Regions from separate parts of the Homo sapiens genome. Here region 2 is linked to region 1. A link means that fine-mapping ties the variant in region 1 to the plasma level of a protein whose gene starts in the linked region. Region 1 holds a variant in brackets. A gene starts in the other region. All regions are shown on their reverse strands.

Region 1 (2,500 bases):
GCTCTTTCAGCAACACTGAGCGCCAGTTGCCTTTCTTGTACAATATCTCTGATTTCCAGTATCTTTGTGAAATGAGACATTTGGATTCACCCTGTGCAAAGAAGGCTTCCTGAGTTGTCTGTCTCTGTCAAGACAGGCACATCACTGCATTTTAGATCTGGCAGAGATCTTTGATTTAATTGAATCCGGCCATCTTTGTTGACAGATAAGGAAACCGAGGCTCAGTATCATTACATGAATCACCCAAAGTCAAATTGCTGGCAAGTGACATAGCTGAATGAGGGCCATGTTCTTCTTACCATGCACTTTCCTTTCATTTTGGGCTGAATCAAGATCCTCAAAGTGACTCCACCTGTCAGATAGACTTGAGTCTCCAGTACTCACCTTAAATCTCATAAGGCTGGCTGACTTTGGTTTAAACCTCATTACTCCTCTTCTTACAAATATTCTTAATGGTCAAAATAACAAACACCCATGTGTAGGAAGAATGATCTGCAGAAAAGGCCCAGGAAATTTGAGAACATGAAATCAAATTGGCTGATATAAAGCTTTCATTCCTATGAATATAGTTGACCTTCCAGGGGAAAGAAAGTGAGTTATCCCCTCTTGTGATATTTGAGAAGCCAAACATGAGCTTTCTGCCCAAGCACGGGGCTGCAACATGGCAGCATTTACACAGGTTGTTTCACATTTAGGGATGGGCTGTGTTCCAGAAATTTACTTGTATGTCACCGGGTTGAAACTGGGACTGCATTTTCCTGGTCAAATCAATTTCAGTCATCTCCAGTGGAAGCCATGTCTCCAAACACTCTTTCTCTAAGCCTTTGCTGGTGGCCCCTCCTTTTTTCCCCAGTTAGTTGGTAGACCCTCTTCTCAAGAATTATTCTTACCTATTTATTTATACCATTCTTGAAAATATTTACTATTGTATAAATGAATGAAGTTTCTTTAACCCCACCCGGGCTAATTAAGATTTTTAAAGAGAAAATTGACTTTACAATTGATTAAATTTCAGATTGAGAAACAAAGGGAAGATGGTAGTCATGTCTGGGGGTTAGTGGTTTTGGGTCTACCTCTGAGGCAAGCTGATAGTAGCTGATAGCTTCCTTCTCTCCATAATTCTGGGATTTCTAAGTATACCAGGTACTAACTTCCCTCAGTGTTGCTCATGAGCTTTGCATCCTAAGTGGAGCAGCTGTTGGACTTGGTATGACAGGCAGAAATGGCTTCATTTTAAATATATGATGCATATTTGAGATATAATATTGGGCGTCAGGGGCTATTTCTATCTGCTACATTCCCAGTATGTTAAGCAGGCATGGCTTTAATACTGAATCTCTCTGTTCCTCTCAAAACTGAATAATTCTTCTTCTTCTGAATATAAAAGTCATGCATGTTTATAAGAGAAAATTTGAAAATTACAGAAAGGCACATTCACATAAAGGAACGTAAAAAGTACTTATAACGTCGTCAGCCACTAC[G/A]AACAGCTTGTTACATTTCCTCCTCATCCTCTTCTTCTTTCTGAGGATATATTTTTACAGGTAAACTTTTCATGATTATAGTTTTTTCAAGCTTCATTTTAAACCCTAATGTATTTTGAACACTCTCCCATTATGCTATTAAATATATTTTACAACTGATTTTAATGATAATATTAAATATAAATATGTGTGTGTATATATATATACACACACACACACACACACACACACACACACACACACACACACATCTCTATAATTTATTGAACCAGGTCACTTAATGTTGGATATTCACATTGCATTCAAGTTTTCAATAATGCAAATAATGTCGCATTGGGCATCCTAATATGAAAAATCTTTGTACACATTCCCTTATTATTGCCTTAGGATGAATTTCTAGAAGTAGATGTTCTAGGTCTATGAGGTTTTTAGAAGTTTTGAATATATATTGCCTGCTTGCTCTGTATAAAAATTATACCCAGTATAATCCTACCAGTAGTATCTGACATCTATTTTTCGATTGAGCTGCTAAATGTAGAGGTCAATCCTAGAAGCGGTCGTCTTGGTTAAGGATGTTTTCTCAAAAGTCTTGTGTCTAATTGGGCTAGCAAATATAAAGTAAGAGTTTATCTGTCACCACAAAACTGAGCTTAGACCTCAAAGCTAATTGCTTCTTAAGATGAGAATTTATTTCCCTTCTACCTCTCCGACATGTTTGGGATATATGTATATACATATCAGTTTAGCTAGAGCAAAATTCAAATATCAAAGCACTGGAAAAACCCATAACAGAAACACAAGTCAAATAACCAAAAATCTTTCCAAGACTCTGCCTGGTGGTATTAAAAAAAAAAGAAAAAGAAAAAGAAAAAAATATATATATTTATTGTTACCTTTTTGAGACTATTTGCAAAATACAGTTTTGTTTTGTTTCTCTAAGATCGAGAAAAGCTAAGCTAATTAGTACTCAAGCACTAAAAAATAAGTATCACGGGAATGGTTTGATTGCTTTTTTTTTT
Region 2 (3,031 bases), not on the chromosome of region 1:
CAGAATGTCTTAGGGCCTGTGCTTTTAGAATCTGAAAGTCTGATATTCTAGAAATTCCAGGGGCCTGTAGTTCTAGAATGGCTGAATCCTTCCCATAAAGATGATGACTTTCCACACATGGGGAGAGACCACGCTTACAACAGGTCCCATCCTTCACTGGGTGACCTGAGTGAGGTCAGTCCCTCCTGTCTTGGGACCTCCTCATTAATTAAGCCAAAATAGACTCTAGATAATTGCTTGGGGCCCTCTGGGGTTCTGAGACATTGGAAGCCAGCCTCAAATACCCAAAGCCTTGGGTCATCTCAGTGATCATCTCCAGCCTCTGGGATGCAGAATCCAGATTTCAAGCTCTAGAACCCAGAAATAAGACTACAGGACCAGAATAGAGACCCTGGGTTCCCAGACTCTAAATTCAGACTCTAGAGTCAAGATTCTAGCAATCTCAGAATCGTGAAAGCCAGGTCCCTGTCTCTCAATTCAGCCTTTTAAAAATTTATTTACTTATTTATTTATTTATTTAGATTTTTCATAGAGATGAGGTATTGCTGTGTTGCCCAGGCTGGTCTCAAACCCTTCAGTTCCAGCAATCCTCCTACCTCAGCCTCCCAAAGGCATGAGTCACTGGGCCCAGCCACAGTCCAGGTTTTCAATGCAAAAACAGATTTGAAACTCCAGACTGTATGTTCCAAAGTCTACTCCTGAAAGCTCAGAGGCTAGATCCACCCTGTAGAATCCAGACCCCAAGCCTGGCATGGTGTCTCACGCCTGTAATCCCAGCACTTTAGGAGGCTGAGTCAGGTGGATCACTTGAGATGAGGAGTTCGACACCAGCCTGGCCAACATGGTGAAACCCTGTCTCTACTAAAAATATAAAAATTAGCTGGGCGTGGTGGTGGTCGCCTGTAATCCCAGCTACTCAGGAGGCTGAGGCAGGAGAATCTATTGAGCCCAGGAAGTGGAGGTTGCAGTGATCTGAGATCACGCTATTGCACTCCAGCCTGGGTGACAAGAGCGAAACTTCATCTCAGAAAAAAAAAAAAAAAGAATCCAGACCCCACAATTCAAAATCCCAAATCTACCATTTGTAGTCTAGGCCCCAGGCTTCTCATAGCAGGTGCAAAGGTTTCCAGCCTCGATTGCCAGATTCCAAACACCAGATTCCAGGCTCCTATTGTGGGTTCTAGATTCGAATGCCCCGGGATCCAGAATCAAGGTTCACGATCTGTCACTCAAAGGCCCGACTCCAGGATCCAGATTCCAGACCCCCAGCCCAAGAACTCAGACTTTGAAATCCATATTCCAGACTGCAGGTCATTAATCTCCAACTCAAGATCCTCAAATCCAGAATCCAAGACCCAGATCCAGAACCAGATCCGGATCCAGAACCCGGGATCCAGAACTCTGCCCCAAGCCCAAGAACAGGGACTTTAGGATCCAGTTTCCACACTCCAGACCCCAAATTCCAGACTCTGTCTTTTGATCTCCTCCTAATTTCTGTTTTTGTCCTCCTGTCCCCTCCCCCTTGAGGAACTGCTCCTGGTGGAGAATTCCTCTTTGTGGACTCAGACAACAGCTTCAACCTAATAAATGCTCATTAGGCCAAGTCTCCCACCCCACCAGCAACCAAGGCGTCTCTGCCTGTAAACCTGACTCTCAGCCACCTCCCACCCCACCCTACACCACCACACCCCCAGACCCAGCTGGGACTGGGAGCTTATAAATTCAGGCATCCTGGTACCTGCTCCCTTCTGGCACCCAAGCTGCCCTAGATGCTGCTGGAGGATCTGGAGGAGGTGAGAGCTTTGAGACAAGACTGAGGGAGGGGCAAAGGGGAGATTCACTGTGCCCTGGTTTCAAGGGGAAACGTTGACCACGCTTGGAGAACTGAGTGTCAAGGGCATGGGTAGATCCACGTGTCCTTTACCAATGCCCCAAATTGAACCTGAACCAAGAAAATGTCCTGGAATGGCCAGAAGGAGCTGCAGTGGTGGGGAGGGAGGGGGATGGAGTGGATCAGGAGGACGTCCCTGAAGTACTTGTATCAGAGCCAAGAACGTGGTCAGGAGTGATCACGGGTTCAAGTCAGTTCAGCACAACCTCCCGGAGGCCTCCTGTGTACCAGGCCCCAGGTGGGGCAGTGCTGAGGTCACAGAAAGAACCTGACCTGAGCCCCATCTTCAAGACCCCCAGATGGAGAAAAGAACAGGCCAGACCTCAGCAAGTATGGGGCATCTGCGCTGTAATGGAGACAGAATGGGTGCTGTGGGATTCAGGGGAGACACCTGTTAGGTGTTGGGGCCTCCCAGAAGAGGTGGGGGCAGAGTGTCAGAGGACAAAGATGAATTTGGAAGATATGGGGAAGAAGGATTTCAATTCACCCTCAAAGCTTCCTGAGGCCTCCCGTGGGTCGGGCCCTGCAGTACTGGAGACCCAGAGTGGAGTCAGACCAGCTCCTCGGGGAGCTGCCAGTCTCGTAGGGGAGGCAGACACCACTGAGGGTCAGGGGAGGTCAGAGAAGGCCTCAAGGAGGAAGCGGGGCTGGAAGGGAATGGCGTTGGATATGCGGTGGGAGGAATAGCCTAAGCATGAAATGGCAGGAGGGAAAATGGCAGCACTGGCTGCGTCTAGGACAAGGTCATGGGAGACCCAGGGAGAGGGGCTGGAAGGGAAGAAGCCACTTTTGTCCTTGAAAGTGAGGCTGGAGCCAGGCAACTCATGCCTGTAATCCCAGCACTTTGGGAGGCTGAGGCGGGTGGATCACTAGAGGTCAGGAGTTCAAGACCAGCCTGGCCAACATGGTGAAACTCCGTCTCTACTAAAATTACAAAAATTAGCTGGGCGTGGTGGCACACACCTGTAATCCCAATTGCTTGGGAGGCTGAGGCAGGAGAATCTCTTGAACCCAGAAGGCAGAGGTTACAGTGAGCGGAGATCACGCCACTCCACTCCAACCTGGGCTACAGAGCCAGACTCCGTCTCAAAAAAAAAAAAAAAAAAGAAAAAAAAAGAAAGAAAGTGAATTTGAAGAGCT

Alleles and levels. Alleles are on the strand shown, and positions count from the first base shown. The strength of an association depends on the size of the effect and on how common the allele is.
For the plasma level of the protein whose gene starts at base 1,746 in region 2, A is the high allele of the variant in region 1 and G is the other (weak association).

Evidence for each region. A credible set is the group of variants that fine-mapping cannot tell apart. PIP is the posterior inclusion probability: the model's chance that the variant is causal. The UK Biobank Pharma Proteomics Project read protein levels with antibody pairs (Olink). The fine-mapping took linkage between variants from a reference panel, not from the people measured, so its PIPs are less certain.
Region 2: KLK15 starts here. The variant in region 1 is the best candidate, but not a certain one, in a credible set for the plasma level of the KLK15 protein (UK Biobank, PIP 0.80).

The regions. Positions count from the first base shown.
Region 1 is chr4:23,895,168-23,897,667 of GRCh38, reverse strand. It overlaps a transcript of PPARGC1A not described here. Among named protein-coding and RNA genes, the nearest start is that of PPARGC1A, 6.4 kb to the right of the region's middle. The variant G/A (reference allele first, on the strand shown) is at 1,482.
Region 2 is chr19:50,832,289-50,835,319 of GRCh38, reverse strand. KLK15 (kallikrein related peptidase 15) reads left to right here and starts at 1,746. Exons shown (of 6, transcript NM_017509.4): 1 at 1,746-1,793. All of the region lies in intron 2 of LOC105372441 (a long non-coding RNA gene), which reads right to left.